2 separate regions of the Homo sapiens genome follow, and region 1 is linked to region 2. Evidence: fine-mapped expression QTL. A gene starts in region 2. The other region holds a variant in brackets. All regions are shown on one strand. Distances are between the middles of the regions.

Evidence for each region.
Region 1: its variant is fine-mapped to the expression of OSCAR in whole blood (INTERVAL, PIP above 0.99).

The regions. Positions count from the first base shown.
Region 1 is chr19:54,122,250-54,130,249 of GRCh38, reverse strand. It overlaps PRPF31 (pre-mRNA processing factor 31), which reads right to left. Exons shown (of 14, transcript NM_015629.4): 5 at 7,656-7,753; 6 at 6,690-6,796; 7 at 6,332-6,501; 8 at 5,594-5,751; 9 at 3,633-3,722; 10 at 2,050-2,177; 11 at 1,873-1,945; 12 at 1,065-1,193; 13 at 880-978. PRPF31-AS1 (PRPF31 antisense RNA 1) reads left to right here and starts at 7,608. Exons shown (of 4, transcript NR_186329.1): 1 at 7,608-7,758; 2 at 7,844-8,000. The variant A/G (reference allele first, on the strand shown) is at 3,928.
Region 2 is chr19:54,095,936-54,105,802 of GRCh38, reverse strand. OSCAR (osteoclast associated Ig-like receptor) reads left to right here and starts at 5,000. Exons shown (of 5, transcript NM_133169.6): 1 at 5,000-5,047; 2 at 6,023-6,055; 3 at 8,639-8,941; 4 at 9,650-9,867. The coding sequence starts at 5,011. It overlaps NDUFA3 (NADH:ubiquinone oxidoreductase subunit A3), which reads right to left and starts at 2,948. Exons shown (of 4, transcript NM_004542.4): 1 at 2,915-2,948; 2 at 2,615-2,689. The coding sequence starts at 2,924. RefSeq lists an enhancer at 2,183-3,159.

The sequences.
Region 1 (8,000 bases), 25 kb before region 2:
AGCTGTCTGCGCCCAGCCTGGCATTTCTGCCTTCTCCTACACTGGACATCTTACTGAGCTGTCTGCGCCCGGCCTGGCATTTCTGCCTTCTCCTACACTGGACATCTTACTGAGCTGTCTGCGCCCGGCCTGGCATTTCTGCCTTCTCCTACACTGGACATCTTACTGAGCTGTCTGCGCCCGGCCTGGCATTTCTGCCTTCTCCTACACTGGACATCTTACTGAGCTGTCTGCGCCCGGCCACCCACTGGCTCCAAGAAGGTAAGACTTGTCTCTCATTCGTTGCTTCATCCCCAGAGCCGGGAACACTGACAGAACTCAGCAGGTGCTGCGTAGACACCCGCTGACTGGGCAGATGAGCTCGCTGCTGTCTCGCCTCCGTGGTGCAGGCTCGCCCTGCTCTGTGGATGGTAAACCGAGGCTCCGACGATGCGGTGACTGCCATGCTCCACGCTGCTCACTGCTGACTGGCTGGGGCCTGGACCCACACTTGACATCCAAGCCCGCCTAGCCGGGAACTTTCTCGAGTGGGGTCCTGAGGTTACCTTAACCGTCCTGGCCGTTTTGAACTGGAGGGCCTGGAGGCTGAGCAGTGTTACCCGCTCACAGCCCGACAGAGGAACTGGGTGCCCTGAACACAGCTGTGGGCCTGGTTCTAAAGCAGTGCGTGCTCACGAGGACTGCTCAGCGCTGGGCTCTCGTCTCTGCTAACCTCTTCCTGTGTGCCAGGAGCTGTCTACGTCCTCTGCATACCTCGTCACCACACCCTCCACAACAGCCCCATGAGGAGACTCATCCTGGCCTTCTTCACAGGGGCAGAGGGCAAGGGGCCTTGCCAAGGTCTCAGGGCTGGGGACAGAGCCGGCCCAGGGGAGGTACCTGGAGTGGGGTGAAGGCCACGCTGGAGGCCGTGCCCGAGGAGCGGTCGCGGATGGTGGACTTCCCGCCATATACGACGCTCTGCTTCTGCAGGGTCCGCTGTGGGGAGGACAGGGAGGCTGCGATCTGGGCTCCCCCCACCTTGTGTCCCTCGGTCCCCAGCCCCACCTGGGTCTGGCCCATACCTGCAGCGTCTTGGAGATCCTGGCCTTGGTGGCCTCGTTTACCTGTGTCTGCCGCACACGCCCACTGCCCGACTTGCCCAGGTGGCCCAGGCTGAATCCCAGGTCCTCCTGGTAGGCGTCCTCCTCGATCTAGGGGGGAGAGGAGGCGCCCTGCAGTTCAGCGACCAGGCCCTGCCCTCCAGCCACCGAGGCACCCCCTCCACCAGCCCGAAGCCCAGCGGTCACCAGCCGGCCGGTCCCACGGGCACCTGCTCCGGTACCCACTCGGCCCGGCTGAGGCCTGGGGGCCCACACACGCGGGGGATGCTGGGGAGCCTGAGAGGGGCCCGGTCCCAGCACTGCTCTGTGAGCTCAGAGTTGGGAGGCCATTCCTTCCTTACTCGTGTGGGTCGGGGGATGTCAGGAACCAGAACAGGTTTAATAGGATGAGGTGGCCTCTGAGTTCGGTCCTGCAGGACCAAGGGGATGACGCTGGGATAACAGAGGAGACTGGCGGGGCCCAGGGACGGGGCGGCCGTGCAGCAGGGCACTAAGGAGCCTCTGGGCAGGGAGGAACCGGCCAAGGAGCCCGGGGCGATGGGAAGCCGCGGGGGCTCTAAGCAGCGGAGACACAGGCTCCAAGGGTCGCGAGGGTCGCTTTGGGGCTGAACGGATGGAAACGAGAATAGAGGCCGGGGGGGGGGAGGCTGGGGCAGCGCCCTAGACATGAGCCAGGGCCACAGGACGAGAGGAGGGGCGGTGGCAGGAGGCAGAGGGCGGTGGCGGCTGGCTGGCTGTGGGGTTGAGGAGGGCGCTCTGGGAGTCTGACCTCTCCGAAGCTCATACGGTTGGCCTGCTTCCGGATCTCCGTCAGCCCCAGCCGCTCCTTCATCTTGCGGTACCTGGGGACGGGTGGGTGGGCGGCGCCAGGGAGTCGGCTGGGAGGAGGACGCCGGCTTCTCCCCTCCATGACCCCCATGCCTACCGGACCCCCAGGGCCCCTCACCTGCGGCCGCCTCGCTTCTTCCGCTGTCCATCCAGGGGCGCAGGCAGCGGCTTCACCTGCTTCACAGGCGGCGGCTCCTGCCACTTGTCGAATTTGCGCTCGATCTCATCCTTCAGTTCGTAGCCCACCTGGGGAGGGCGAGGGGGAGGTCCTGCAGCTGCTCGCGTGGGCTGCCCACCCAGGCCTCCTCTGAGCGGGCCCCCCGAGTATCCACGTGCCTTAGTTAAATCAGCACCTAATGCTGCCTCACCGCCACCCCCTTTCTTTTTCTTCTTGGTGTTGACTTAGCACCGCTAGACGCAGGACAGAGTTCACCTGTTGACTGTCTCTTTGACCCGGCCCCAACAAGAATGTCCACGCCACGGGGCAGGGGTCCTGTCTGTGCTACTCACAGCTGCACCCCCACACCCAGACCAGGGGTGAGATGGGGAGAGGGAAAGGAGAAGGGGACACGGAACACCTGAACGCTGTGCCAGGCCGGGTGCTTGGCAAACGACAGTTCACAAGACAGAAAACGTCTCCTCTCCCGAGTACATCTACCAAGGAAGACAGAAGGTAACTGAATAATTACTTGAATAACATCCCCTGTTGCAGCGGGGACAGATCCTGGTGTGGAAGGCAAATTACGCCCCCACCAACACACACATGCCCAAAGAGGCCCATGTTCTAATTCCCAGAATCACAGGGCAAAAGGGACGTGAAGAGGTTAAGAAGGATTTTAAGGATTGTGAGCTGGGAAGACTATCCTGGACCATCTGAGTAGGCTCAGTATAGCCACAGGGGCCCTTAAAATAGAAGAGGGGAACAAAAACAGAGGCGGAGATATGAAGACAGAAGCAGAGTCAGAGAGAGGTCTGAGGGTGCTATGTGGCTGGCTCCGCAGACAGAGGGAGGGCCACGAGCTAAGGGGTGCCAGTGACCCCTAGAAGCTGGAAAAGACCAGGGAATGGATTATCCCTTGAATCCCCCAGAAGGAACGCTCCAGGATGACACCCTGACTTCAGCCCAGTGAAACTCATTTTGGACTTCTGACCTACAGGACCACAGATAATAAACCTGTACTGTTTTTTGTTTTTGTTTTTAGATGGAGTCTCGCTATGTCACCCAAGCTGGAGTGCAATGATGCAATCTCAGTTCACTGCAACCTCCGTCTCCCAGGTTCAAGCAATTCTCCTGCCTCAGCCTCCTGAGTAACTGGGATTACAGGTGCGTGCCACCACACCCGGCTAATTTTGGTAGAGATGGGGTTTCACCATGTTGGCCAGGCTGGTCTCAAACTCCTGACCTTGTGACCCGCCCACCCTGGCCTCCCAAAGTGCTGGGATTACAGGCGTGAGCTACTGCACCCGGCCACACCTGCACTGTTTTAAGCCAGTAGGTTCATGCTACCTTCCAACAGCAGACCTAGGAAACCCCACTGGGGAAGGGGGTGCCTGACCCCAGGGAGGGTGGGCAGAAGCACTGCCTCCGCCTTGGTAGGACAGTGCTCGCTGGGGTGGGCTCCCTGCTGAGGGTCTCCCTGCAGAGACACCCCAGGCCCAGAGGAAAAGACGCCCGGCCGCCCCTCACCTTTCCCTCCTCACCTTCCCTTCTGTGCTCTCGTGGAAACTGTCCACACGGGCTGCCAGTGTGCACTTGGCGGCCACCAGCCGGGCCGCTTTCCGCCGCAGATCCTGGAGCAACGGAAAACGGGGGTGGAATCTGTGTGAGACAGACAGACAGAGGTAACAGCAAAGCAACCGCGCGCGCTCCTCCTCTGGCTCTACCTGGGGTCCTGGAAGGGGGCTTTCCACCCTTGGGCTCTAGAGGTGTGTGCTCTCAGCTCCTACTTCACAGGAAGAGGGGATGAGGGCAGGGCACAGAGCCATGTCCCAGCTG[A/G]TAAGTGGCCATCAGGTAAGGATGACAGTAAGGCACGCTGACAACGAGGACGGTGGTGACTGTGGAGACGCCGGGGGGAGTGCACTCGGCCTGGATGCCAGCCCCATGCTAAGCACGCCCCTCGGATCATCTCATCAAATATTCAAATATCGGGCTGGTGTGATCATTGCACCCCCTTTTCAGATGTGGAAACCAAGGCTTCAAGTCATGTGGCCAGGGAGACAGCCAGCAGGTGATGGAGCCAGGGTTCCAATCCAAACTGCAAACAGAGCCCAGCTGTCAGCCACAGTGAAGCGATGGCCAGCCCTGGCCTCCCTTACAGGCCTGTGGTGTCTACGGCCTGTGCCTGGACCGATGTGAGATGGCCAAATGAAGAGGCAGAGGCCTGGGTGACAAGACATCAGGCTCCCTGGGGCAGGTTTAACCCATATGCCCAGGGCTGTGAGGCGGTGGCGATGGCAGGGGTGCAGTGAGGCAGCTGGAGCCCCGAGCCCCAGGCCCACCCGTCCTGGGTTCTATCGCCCACTCTCTCTCCTCCCAGGATGGGGTGACCTGCCAGCCTCCCTGGGTGTGTTCCAGTAGCAGTGCCTGACCTAAAGGGTCGCAGAAAAGACCACAAAAAAAACCCCACACAGGGCTGGGGGGTGGGGCCAGGAAGTGCCTGCCCAGCCTTGGCCATCAGTGCTATTGTTCTCCCCATCCCTGGGGGAGGCCAGGCAGGGCACAGGGCCGTGAGCCTGAGGTAACTCGCCACAGTTGGACAGAGCAGGGTCTGGACCCAGGCCTGTCTGTCCCAGAACCTGTCTTGCTTGTTTTTTTTTTTTTTTGAGACAGAGTCTCACTCTGTCACCCAGGCTGGAGGGCAGTGGTATGATCTTAGCTCACTGCAACCTCCACCTCCTGGGTTCAAGCGATTCTCCTGCCTCAGCCTCCCAAGTAGCTGGGATTATAAGTGTGTGCCACTATACCCAGCTAGTTTTTTGTATTTTTGGTAGAGATGGGGTTTCACCATGTTGGCCAGGCTGGTCTCGAACACCTGACCTCAGGTGATCTGCCCGCCTCGGCCTCCCAAAGTGCTGGGATGACAGGCACGAGCCACTGCGCCCCGCCAGGCTAGCGGGCCTGTGTGTGTGCTGTCAGGCGTCGATGCTGGGATGGTGATGTGTCCCGACTGCAGGGAGAGGACCCGGGAAGCTCCGAGGTTGGTGACCTCTCCTGCCCCTCCTGTGTGTCTCTCCCCATGGCTGATGTGCAGCCCTCAGTGGATTCTGTGAGTCTTTCTAGTGAATGGTCAAACCTGAGGGTGGTCTTCGGAGCAGTTGCACGCTAACCCGACGCTGCTTGTCGTGAGCTAGGCCTGAACTGTAAGTGCTTCATGTGCACTGAGCCCTCGTCCCAACTCATGAAGCAGGCGCTGTGCTCCCATTTGATAGGGGAGGAGACTGAGGCACAGGGCGCTCATGCCTCTTGCCCACAGTCACCTGACTGGTGGGTGCTGGAGCTGGTCTGCTGCAGAGCCCTGGCTCTCACGTCCCATGCCACCCTGTTCCCAGCTCCTGAGTGCTACCGTCAGCTGGGCCAGATGGTGGGTGGCTGCTCAGGCTGTCTGGGCACAGCGGAAGGCTCCAGGGGGGCCGGGGGAGGGGCCATGACGCAGTGGGCTCACCGGTGGCAGGGACTGCACGATGTCACTGTGGTAGATGTAGCCGGTGTGGGGCAGCACTGAGGTAGACGAGAAGCCCGACAGCGTCTTGCGCTGGGCCCCGAGCAGCATGATGTTGCAGGCGGGCATCTTGGAGAGGTTGGTCAGGCCGCCGGCCACACCTGCGGTGGGAGGGAGGGAGGAAGGGGGGGCGGTCAGAAGAAAGCAGAGAGGTGGGGGTGAGTAAATCTGCCTGGGGGCTCGACGTGTGCTGGGCACCTTTACATGAAGTTCTGGTTGGATTCCTCGATGGCCCTGCCAGGCGGGCGACCTGGCCCATTCCGCAAGGGGCAGATGCAAAGGAGGCTCAGAGAGGGAGGGCAGCTGGCCTGGGGGTGCAGGGAGGAGGCCCCCAACAGGAAGCTGACCACCACGTTTGTGCTAAGCCACACTAACGCCGTTCCAGGGATGGCTGTGTTTTGGAACCATTTTCACCAAACCAGGAGCTCCCTGACAACAGGGCCTGGGTGTGGTCATCTCTGGGTTTCCGGCACAGGGGAGGGAGAAGGAGCTGTGGGTGAGTGTTTTTCCCACAGATGAGGCTTTGCTGTGTGCCAGGCTGGCTGACCTCTGTGATGTCCAGGGAGACGGGGTGCTGAGGTCCAGGTGCCAAAGCCCCCATTCTACAGAAAAGGATGTAGCTTTCCCAAGGTCACAGTGTCAGCAGACCCCCGCTCCATGGGACCCAGCCCGGGGACTCACCCATGATCTTGGCGGCCGTGGATGCCCCGATAATGATGGACAGGTTGGGTGCGATGAAGGACATCCGGGACTCCACATACTCGTAGATGCGGTGCTTGGAGGCGTTCAGCTCCAGCGCCATGTCGCAGGCCTCCTCCAGCCGCTCCAGCTCCTCCTCCGACAGCTGCTGCCTGCAGGGGCGGGTGGGCCCAGCCTCCTGGGTCTCCCGCCTGCCTGGTGTGCCCAGCCCCAGCCCTCTCGGTTCTGTGTGTGTGTGTGCATGTGTGTATGTGTGTGTGCGTGTGTACACCTGCGTGTGTAGCTCCAGCCTAATCCCCAATCCCATTAGGGCCCGGCGCCTCCCTCGAAGCGGACATACCCCTGGGTGGTGGAGGCGGTGACGCTGACGACCATGATGGTGGCATTGGTGAGGATCTGCTGCAGGTTCTCATTGTTCTTGCACTTGTCCAGGCTGTTGCCCAGCTCCTGGGGGCGAGCAGAGAAGATAGGGGAGGCTCGGGAACTCAGGAAGGCTCGAGAACCTCTCTTGCTCAGCACCTCCTCAGGTCTCTTCTTAGGGACACTGGGACAGTCAGGGTCTCTGCACTGGGGGCCTCTCCTGCCTCCACCGCCTGAAGCATCCACACCATTCCTGCCTCCACCACGTCAAGCATCCACACCATCTGCCCTGCTTTCGCTGACCTGGAAACGGAGCCCGGGCAGAGTGGCGTCTGGAAAGACTGTGGCCTCACAAGCCTCTGGCCTGCGTCAAGTCGGAGTGCAAATCCGCGGCCTCGCTTCCCTGCAGGGGCTTCCCCACCGCCATCCTAATCCTTTCCTGGACATGCGTGGGGACCTCCTCCTCTCCCCGCCCTCACGCACACCTGCCCCTCTTTTCCGAAACCCTTCCTTGGCTTTCTCCTAAGACCCAAAGGCTGGACGTGATCCGACCTCTTCCCCGTCCCCTCCTTCCCCGCCTCACTTCCTCCCCACTTGTTCCCTCTCCAGCTCTCTGCACTTAGACGTCTCTCTCCCCCAAATCTCCGTGTGCCTGCCCTGTGTCAACCTTCGGATGTCAACTCCAATGCCACCGGCTCCAACCACAGCGGGAGCAGCGTGGGTCAGGCCAGCGGGGAAGCCCTCTCGGGAGACTGGGGTTGGAGGGGAGCCCTGAGAAAGTCCTGTCCAGGCTCCGTCCCTCCCACGCTGGGCAGAGCAGACCACTGAGCCCTCGTCCACTCCTCTCCATCGTCTCCAGACCCTCAGGCCTCTGGGAGGGGGTCCGAGAGTGAGCCCCGCCTGCCCCTTCACGCCAGCAGAAGCACCCCACCTTCTCTGCGCTCACCTTGACCGTGCGGATGTAATCCAGTGCATTGGGGACCAAGGACTCCAGTTCAGGGAATCTCTTTGAGTACTTATCCCGGATGAACTTATGGATGATGTCTAGGGTAAACGGGACAGGAGGTTGTCGGGTGAGATGGAAGGTAGACTCTGCTGGTTGGCCCTAACACCCATGTCCCCTTCTTCCTTTAGTAACTGAAGCCCTGGCTTGTGGCCTGGCACACGGGCACCAGCATACAGCCTTTCTCAGCCGTCCTTACCGCTAGGTGTGACCAGGGGAATTAGTTCTGGTCTGTAAAACGTGAGCTGCAGTGACATGTTCTTAAAGAAAAGAAGCGCCTTGCTGGTG
Region 2 (9,867 bases):
GGATCCTTGGTACCTTGGGATCCCTACTTATAGACAGGAGGGTTTAAAACTCTTTTTTGGGGGGTTAAGTGGAGGTAGGGGTTGGAGCCTAACACTCACAGATACGTGGGGCCTGGAGGAGGCAGCAGTGGGGTTGGTCATGGAATGAGCACGTTTGAGTGTAGGGTCATCATGGAGCATCCTGGGGGTAGTGTCATGGGACTGTTCTGGAGAAATCAAGACTGTTACAAATTTGGCCGGGCACAGTGGCTCAAGCCTGTAATCCCAGCACTTTGGGCGGCCAATGTGGGCGGATCACCTGAGGTCAGGAGTTCGCGACCAGCCTGGACAACATGATGAAACCCCATCTCTACTAAAGATACGAAAATTAGCCGGGCGTGGTGGCAGGAGCCTGTAATCCCAGCTACTCAGGAGGCTGAGGCAGAAGAATCCCTTGAGCCTGGGAGGCAGAGGTTGCAGTGAGCCCAGATTGTGCCATTGCACTCCAGCCTGGGCAACAGAGAGAGACTCCATCACCAAAAAAAAAAAAAAAAAAAAAGCCTTACAAACTGGAGGAGAAAGGGTTGCACAAACAACAGTCACTGACCACAGTCCATTTAGGGTGGGAGCCAGGAGTCCTGGGGGATGGGGTACAGTTCATAAAAGGAATGTTCTAGGCCAGTGCTGTCTGACAGATGGTAAGAGCCAGGTATATAATTTTATATCTTCTAGTAGCTACAGTAAAAATAAGAGATACAGATGAAACAAATTTTAAGAAACATACTTGGATGGGCGAGGTGGCTCATGCCTATAATCCCAGGACTTTAGGAGGCTGAGACGGGTGGATCACCTGAGGTCAGGAGTTCGAGACCAGCCTGACCAATATGATGAAACCCCGTCTCTACTGAAAATACAAAAACAGCCAGGTGTAGTGGCATGCGCCTGTAATCCCAGCTACTAAGGAGGCTGAGACAGGAGAATCGCTTGAACCCGGGAGGCGGAGGTTGCAGTGAGCCGAGATCAGGCCATTGCACTCTAGCCTGGACAAAAGCGAAACTCCGTCTCAAAAAAACAAAAACAAACAAACAAAAAAAACCATAGTACATCCAAAACATCACTTCGCCATGTAATCAACAAAAGATTATTGGTAGTTTACACACTCTGTTATACTAAGTTTTTGAAATCCAGTGTCTTATACCACCTCAATTCATACCAGCACCACTTCAAATGCTCAGTGGCCAGTTGTGGCTGGTGGCTGCCATACTGAATAAGTGTTCAGAACCTTAACCTAGTGCCTGGCTGGTGGACCAGCAGTACTGACAAGACCTGGGAACTCTTCAAAAATGCAGAATCCCATGCCCCACCCCAGACCTACAGAATCAGAACCTACAGTTTGGCCGGGCGCAGTGGCTCACCCCTGTAATCCCAGCACTTTGGGAAGGCAGATCACTTGCGGTCAGGAGTTCAAGACCAGCCTGGCCAACATGGTGAAACCTTGTCTCTACTAAAAATACAAAAATTAGCCGGGCGTGGTGGTGCTCGCCTGTAATCCCAGCTACTTGGGAGGCGGAGGCAGGAGAATCACTTGAACCCTAGAGGCGGAGGTTGCAGTGAGCCATGATCAAACCATTGCACTGTAGCCTGGAAGACAGAGCGAGACGCCATCTCAAAAAAAAAAAAAAAAAAAAGCTGGCCGGGCGCGGTGGCTCACGCCTGTAATCCCAGCACTTTGGGAGACCGAGTTGGGAGGATCACGAGGTTAGGAGATCGAGACCATCCTGGCTAACACGGTGAAACCCCGTCTCTATTGAACATACAAAAAATTAGCCGGGCATGGGGGCGGGCGCCTGTAGTCCCAGCTACTCGGGAGGCTGAGGCAGGAGAATGGCGTGAACCCGGAAGGCGGGGCTTGCACTGAACCGAGATCGCGCCACTGCACTCCAGCCTGGGCGACAGAGCGAGACTCAGTCTCAAAAACAAAAACAAAAAATTAGCTGGGCGCCTGTAATCCCAGCTACTCGGGAGGCTGAGGCAGGAGAATCCCTTGAACCCAGGAGGCCGAGGTTGCAGTGAGCCGGGATCGCGCCACTGCACTTCAGCCTGGGTGAGAGTGAGACTCCATCGCAAAAAAAAAAGCTACATTTTAACAATCCCCCGCCCCCATCCCTGCAGGAACTCCGGTGCTAATTAAAGTGTGAGTAGGGCAGTTCCAGGGCAGAGGGCAGAGATTTTCAATCAGCAAGGCACATTGGGATCATACGGGGATTTTCACAAGACACAGATTCCCCAGTCCCACCTCCACCCAAGCCAACTCAATTCAGAATGGGGGAGAGGAAAGATGAAAAGGAGGAGGAGGATCTGGACTTTTTTTTGGTGCTCAGGTGTTAAGGCATAAGCAGGGTTGAGAACGTCTCATTTAGAGGGGTTAAGAGCGTATTGGGTAGGTGGAGAGGAACGCGGGGGGCGATGGTGGAGAGGTTATAATGGGTATGGGGATAGATAAGGGGATGCCGTGGGGGTGCAGACACACTAGAGGGGACCCGAGGGCGGCGATAGGGCTTTAGGGGTACAAGATGGAGGGATGTAGGGGGACGGGGGTGGACGATGCAAGTTTGCGCCTGGAGCACTCACGCACCGAGGCCCCCGACGACGAAGGACACGACCAGCACTGGCTCCTTGTCCCAGGCATTCTTGAGGAAGGCGCCGACTCCTGAAGGGGTGGCAAGAAGCGTCACCCCTGCAAGTAGCTGCCCCCGGTGACCTCTAACCCTCTCGTGCCACCCCTGCCCTGGAGGAGCCCCCTCGTGACTTCTGCGTTCCCCTCCAGCACGGACCCCATCGCTTCCACCCCTGCCCTGCCGCACCTCAGTCCCAGGACCGCCCAGAGGTTCCCAGAACTACCCGAGCCCCGTGCGCCACCGGCACCTGCACTTACTCGCAGCCATCTTTGTCTCCGCGGCGGCGACAGCGGCGAGGACGCGGAGCACCCTGGGAGTTGTGGTCCCTATGCGCGAGAACCCGCTCCCAGGGCTGCGCGTGCGCCCTGGAGCACAAGTAGAGGCGAAAGCAAGGACGCGGAGCACTCTGGGAGTTGTGGTCCCTCTGTGCGACGGCCCGCTTTCGGAGCCTGCGCGTGCGCACTCGCGCAGAACAAAGATGGAGCCGTGGAGGTAAAGGAAGTGGTGTCAGGAGCAAGCGCAAGCCTGACTTTGCGGACCTGCGTGGAATCTCCTTAGTCTCAGCCTAGAAGTCGCTCCGGAGTGACTAGTCCTCCTGCTGCGACCCACCTAAGGCGGAACAAAATAGTCCCCATTTTATAGTTTATGTATGAAAGCCCATTTTACAGACGAAGAAACTGAGCCCGGGAGAAGGTGAATGACTAACCTGTCCTTCGAGGTCTCAGCTCAACATCGGCTCGTCCTGGAAGCGCTAGGTCTCATCCCAGATGGGTTAGGAGCTTTCTGCGGGCTCTCACAGTGCTCTGTTACCGCCATTATAGCTCAGATCACTTAAGAAACTGACCTGGTCTGGGCCAGGCGCGGTGGCTCACGCCTGTAATCCCAGCACTTTGGGAGGCCGAGGCGGGCGGATCACGAGGTCAGGAGATCTAGACCATCCTGGCTAACATGGTGAAACCCTGTCTCTACTTAAAAATACAACACAAATTAGCCGGGCGTGGTGGTGGGCGCCCGTAGTCCCAGCTACTGGGGAGGCTAAGGCAGGAGAATGGCGTGAACCCGGGAGGCGGAGCTTGCAGTGAGCCGAGATCACACCACTGCACTCCAGCCTGGGCGACAGAGCGAGACTCCGTCTCAAAAAAAAAGAAACTGACCTGGTCTTGGTCTTTCAGTCGGACTGGTAGCTGCTGCTTGAGAGCAGTAACGGAGTCTGAGTTCCCTCTGTGCCTGCCAACATGGCACAGCGAGGGTCTGGCACGTAATAGGTTCTAATTTTTTTTTTTTTCTTCTGAGATTGAGTCTAGCTCTGTCGCCCAGGCTGGAGTGCAATGGCGCGATCTCGGCTCACAGCAACCTCCGACTCCCGAGTTCAAGCGATTCTCCTGCCTCAGCCTCCTGAATAGCTGGGATTACAGGCGCGCGCCTCCACAGCCGGCTAATTTTTCTTTTTTAGGAGAGACGGGGGTTTCTCCATGTTGGTCAGGCTGGTCTCGAACTTCCCGACCTCAGGTGATCCACCCGCCTTGGCCTCCCAAAGTGCTGGGATTACAGGCGTGAACAACCGCGCCCGGCCTAGAGGGGCTAATTTTTATCTATCTATCTATCTAACACAGTATCACACCAAGAGCCTGGCACATAATAGGTGCTAATTTTTCTCTGTCAACCAATCTATCAATCGATCAATTAATCACAGCAAGGGCCTGGCACATAATTGGTGTTAATTTTTATCTATCCATCAATCAATCACAGCAAGGGCCTGGCACTTAACAGGTGCTAATTTTTATCTATCTATCTATCTATCTATCTATCTATCTATCCATCCATCCATCTATCTATCTTTCAATCACAGCAAGGGCCTGGCACATAATAGGTGCAAATTTTTATCTATCTGTCAATCAATGACAGCAAGAGTCTGGCACATAATAGGTTCTTATTTTTAAAACAGACAGATATCTTTCTATCTGTCTATCTATATTTAAAGACATGGTCTCACTCTATCACCCAGGCTGGAGTGCAGTGGCACAATTTATTTATTTATTTTTTAGACAGGGTCTCGCTCTGTTGCCCAGGCTGCTCTTGAACTCTTGGGCTCAAGCGATCCTCCTGCCTCCACCTCCTGACTAGTATTTGTTTCTAGAGTTAAATAAATGAACACCACAGGTTATGACTGAACCCCCTGCTAATTTTTCCACAGTGCCATAGGGCTATGACACAGTCACCCACAGGCCCCCACCTCGATACTCTCTTCCGTAAATGAGGATCTGGGTCTGGTTTTCTGATGTTGCCTCATTTCCTGGGAGGGGAGAGGGTGCGACCAAGCCCTGGCTCCAGCTCTAGCGGGTATCTGCCCACCATGGCCCTGGTGCTGATCCTCCAGCTGCTGACCCTCTGTGAGTCACCCCTTTCTTCTCCCTGGGTTCCTGGCTGGGGTTGGGGGCAGAGAGAGAGGCAATGGAGACCCAGACACCCTGCAGGGGGACCAGGCAGCAGGTTTGGGATTCTAGGTTCAAATAAAGAACAGGGCTGGGGCCCAGACCCCTGGGTCCTAAAGCAAGAGAACACAGATTCCCGAAAGAGGAAGGAGGTGGGGACAGGTATCTCTGGTTCTTGAGGCAGGAAGAGGTCAGGAGACAGGGAGGACTCCCAGATTCTTATATGGGAGGGGGATGGAAGCCAGGACTCCTGATTCCCTGGGAAAAGGGGGCTGGGAACAGGGCTCTTAGCTCCTGAGAGAAGAGGGAAATGGGGACCCAGATTCCTGAACTCGTGAGAGGAGAAACTCTACGATCATTGTTCCCTGGAAAGGTGGAGTTCAAGGGCCTGAACTCTTGGTTGCCCAGGCCAGAGGGGTCTGCGTTCAGACTTCTTCGGTAGGTGGGCAATGGATGTCCAAATTTCTGCCTACTGAGACAGGAGGAGGGAGGGATAAGATTCTCATTTCCCAGAGGAGATAGGAGCTGGGAACTCAGATTCCTGGGTTACCAATGAGATGGGGCTGGCCACAAAGGGTTTTGAAAAGAACTCGCTGTTGGGCGCAGCGGCTCATGCCTGTGGGAGCCGAGGCCCAGCACTTTGGGAGGCCGAGGCGGGTGGATCACCTGAGGACAGGAGTTCAAGACCAGCCTGACCAACATGGCGAAACCCCTCTCTACTAAAAATACAAAGATTAGCCTGGTGTGGTGGCGGGCACTTGTAGTCCCAGCTACTACGGAGGCTGAGGCAGGAGAATCACTTGAACCTGGGAGGCAGAGGTTGCAGTGAGCTGAGATCACACCACTACACTCCAGCCTGGGCGACAGAGTGAGACTCTGCCTCAGACAAAAAAAAAAAAAGGAAAAAGAAACTAGTCCCTCAACCTCCTACAGGGCCTCTGTGTCACACAGACATCACTCCGTCTGGTGAGTAGCCACCCCATCCACTCTCCTTTTGTTGCTGACACCCCTTTTCCAATTACTCAGATTTTATTTTGGTGCCCAATCCCATCCCAGATATCCTTATTTTCCTCCCTCCCTCCATTCCTTCCTTCTTTTCTCATTCCCCTTAGTGGCCATTATAGGTGAGTACTGAAGACCAGGAACTTCTGAGGCAGAGGCCTAAGCTAGGACCTCAGTTTCACCATCGTATTCATTTATATGTGACCATATGACCTAGAACAAGTCACAGCTTGCTAAGACTCCATTTCCTTCTCTGTAAAATGGGCCGCTGTGAGATCTCATCAAATCACATGTGCAAAACCCTGAGCCTGGCACAGTACAGGGCTTAAGAAATAGGATCTTGGGCTGGGCGCAATGGCCAACGTCTGTAATCCCAGCACTTTGGGAGGCAGAGGCGGGCGGATCACAAGGTCAGATCGAGATCATCCTGGCTAATGTGGTGAAACCCCGTCTCTACTAAAAAAAAAAAAAAAAAAAAAAAATTAGCCGGGTGTGGTGGGACGCACCTGTAATCCCAGCTACTCAGGAGGCTGAGGCAAGAGAATCGCTTGAACCCAGGAGGCAGAGGTTGCAGTAAGCTGAGATCGCGCCACTGCACTCCAGCCTGGGTGACAGTGCAAGACTCCACTTCAAAAACAAACAAACAAACAAAAAAAACTCTTTTGGAGATATTTCAGTGTCGCTATAGCTATCTCTACCTATTTATTTTATTTATTTATTTATTTATTTTGAGACCAGTTTCTCTCTGTCGCCCAGGCCGGAGTGCAGTGGTGCAATCTCGGCTCACTGCAACCACCTCCTGGGTTCAAGGGATTCTCCTGCCTCAGCCTCCTGAGTAGCTGGGACTACAGGCACACACCACAATGCCCGGATAATTTTTGTATTTTTAGTAGAGACAGGGTTTCCCCATGTTGGTCAGGCTGGTCTGGAACTCCTGACCTCAGGTGATCCCTCTGCCTCAGCCTCCCAAAGTGTTGGGATTACAAACATGAGCCCCCTCACCCGACCCTTATTTTTATTCATTTTTAGAGATGGGGTCTCATTGTGTCACCCGGGCTGGAGTACGGTGGCTCTATCATAGCTCACTGCAGCTTTGAATTCCTGGGCTCAGACAATCCTCCAGCCTCAGCCTCCCAAAGTGCATGCCACCATGGAGTTCTCACTCTGTTGCCCAGGCTGGAGTGCAGTGGCATGATCTCAGCTAACTGCAGCCTCCGACTCTAGGGTTCAAGTAATTCTCCTACTCAGCATCCCAAACAGCTGGAACTACAAGCTAGCACTACCACGCCTGGCTAATTTTTCTGTTTTTAGTAGAGATGGGATTTTACCATGTTGGTCAGGCTGGTCTTGAACTCCTGACCTCAGGTGATGCACCCACCTTGGCCTCCCAAAGTGCTGGGATTACAGCTGTGAGCCACCGGACCCAACAGCCTTCCTGTACTCTTAATTTGTGTGATTTGTGAATAAGTGATATCTGCCAGTACTATCATTTGTCCTCTAGTTTTGTCTTTTAGCATACACAACTTAAGAAATTTGAAGTGGTCAAATTAATTAATCTTCCATACAACTTTTTATTTTATATTTTAAGAAGCCTTCCTTACCCCAAGACAAATATATTTTCCTATAGTTTTTTGAATACTTTTATAGTTTAAAAAAAAAGAAACACAGGGTCTTTAATTAATCTGGAAGTTGTTTTGGGAAATGGTATGAGGTAGGGATCCAACATTTTTCTTTTCCAAATAGCAAGTTTTGGCAACTCTTGAAATACTATATTGCAAATATTCTGGAAAGCTATTTAAAATTAGAGTTCTGGCTGGGCGTGGTGGCTCACACCTGTAATCCCAGCACTTTGGGAGGCCGAGGTGGGAGGATTGCTTGAGCCCAAGAGTTCAAGAGTAGCCTGGGCAATATAGCGAATGCTCGTCTCTACTAAAAATTAAAAAAAAAAAAATTAGCCTGGTGTAGTGGCATGTGCCTGTGGTCCCAGGTACTCAGGAGGCTGAGGTGGAGGACTGTTTGAGCCCAAGAGATTGAGGCTGCAGTGAGTTGAGAACATGCCACTGCACTCCTGCCTGAGCAACAGAGCAAGACCCTGCCTCAAAAAAAAAAAAAAAAAAAAAAAAAAAAGTCTGGGTGTGGTGGCACAAGCTTGTAAACTTAGCACTTTGGGAGGCCGAGGTGGGAGGATTGCTTGAGGCCAGTAGTTTAAGACCAACCTGCTCAACATAGGGAGACCGCCCCCTCCCATCTCATTACTTAAAAATAATAATAATAATAAAATTACAGAGTTCTGGGACCTGACCTTTTGAAACTGTGTTTACAAACTGTGGAGTAAAGCTCAGAAGTTTCTGTCCTGCCCCTCTGATTTGCACCTGGTTTTAACAAGGCTTGATTGTAGTCCAGTCTCTCCCTGATTTTACAAACAGGAAACTGAGGCTAAGAAAGGGGCAGTAATTGTCCAAGGTGATTTTCCTCCTTCCCCAACTTCCCTTTCATCTTCTGGGGCTCCCAGGAGGCCCGAGGACCCAGGCAGCCCCGTTTATTCAGTCCCCCCAGCTTCATACCACCCTAAGCCATGGCTGGGAGCTCAGCCGGCTACAGTTGTGACCCCTGGGGTCAACGTGACCTTGAGATGCCGGGCACCCCAACCCGCTTGGAGATTTGGACTTTTCAAGCCTGGAGAGATCGCTCCCCTTCTCTTCCGGGATGTGTCCTCCGAGCTGGCAGAATTCTTTCTGGAGGAGGTGACTCCAGCCCAAGGGGGAAGTTACCGCTGCTGCTACCGAAGGCCAGACTGGGGGCCGGGTGTCTGGTCCCAGCCCAGCGATGTCCTGGAGCTGCTGGTGACAGGTGAGGTCCTGGGGTCGGGGAGGAGAAGTGGGTGGAACAAGGGAGTTGGGGGAGGGACAGAGAGATATAGGGAAAGAGAGACAGAGCGAGGCGGGCAAACAGATTCACAGACACAAGAAAAGACAGATACAGAGACACTAGGGGGAGAGAGAGAGACAGGGGAGCAGAGAGAGAGAGAGGTACAGTGCGGGGGGAGAGAGAGAGAAAGAGGCAGAAGGAGAAAGGGAGGCAGAGAGAGAGGGAGGCAGAGAGAGAGGGAGGCAGAGAGAGAGGGAGGCAGAGAGAGAGGCAGGCAGAGAGAGAGGGAGGCAGAGAGAGAGGGAGGCAGAGAGAGAGGGAGGCAGAGAGAGAGGGAGGCAGAGAGAGAGGGAGGCAGAGAGAGGGAGGCAGAGAGAGAGGCAGGCAGAGAGAGAGGCAGGCAGAGAGAGAGGGAGGCAGAGAGAGAGGGAGGCAGAGAGAGAGGGAGGCAGAGAGAGAGGGAGGCAGAGAGAGAGGGAGGCAGAGAGAGAGGGAGGCAGAGAGAGGGAGGCAGAGAGAGAGGGAGGCAGAGAGAGAGGCAGACAGAGAGAGAGACAGGCAGAGAGAAAGAGAGGCAGAAAGAGAGAGAGAGGCACAGAGAAAGCGAGAGACAGAGGAGAAGGAGAAACAGAGCGAGCGAGCGAGCGGAAGACGCTCACGCGGCCCCGGACTCTCACCCCGTCTCTGCAGAGGAGCTGCCGCGGCCGTCGCTGGTGGCGCTGCCCGGGCCGGTGGTGGGTCCTGGCGCCAACGTGAGCCTGCGCTGCGCGGGCCGCCTGCGGAACATGAGCTTCGTGCTGTACCGCGAGGGCGTGGCGGCCCCGCTGCAGTACCGCCACTCCGCGCAGCCCTGGGCCGACTTCACGCTGCTGGGCGCCCGCGCCCCCGGCACCTACAGCTGCTACTAT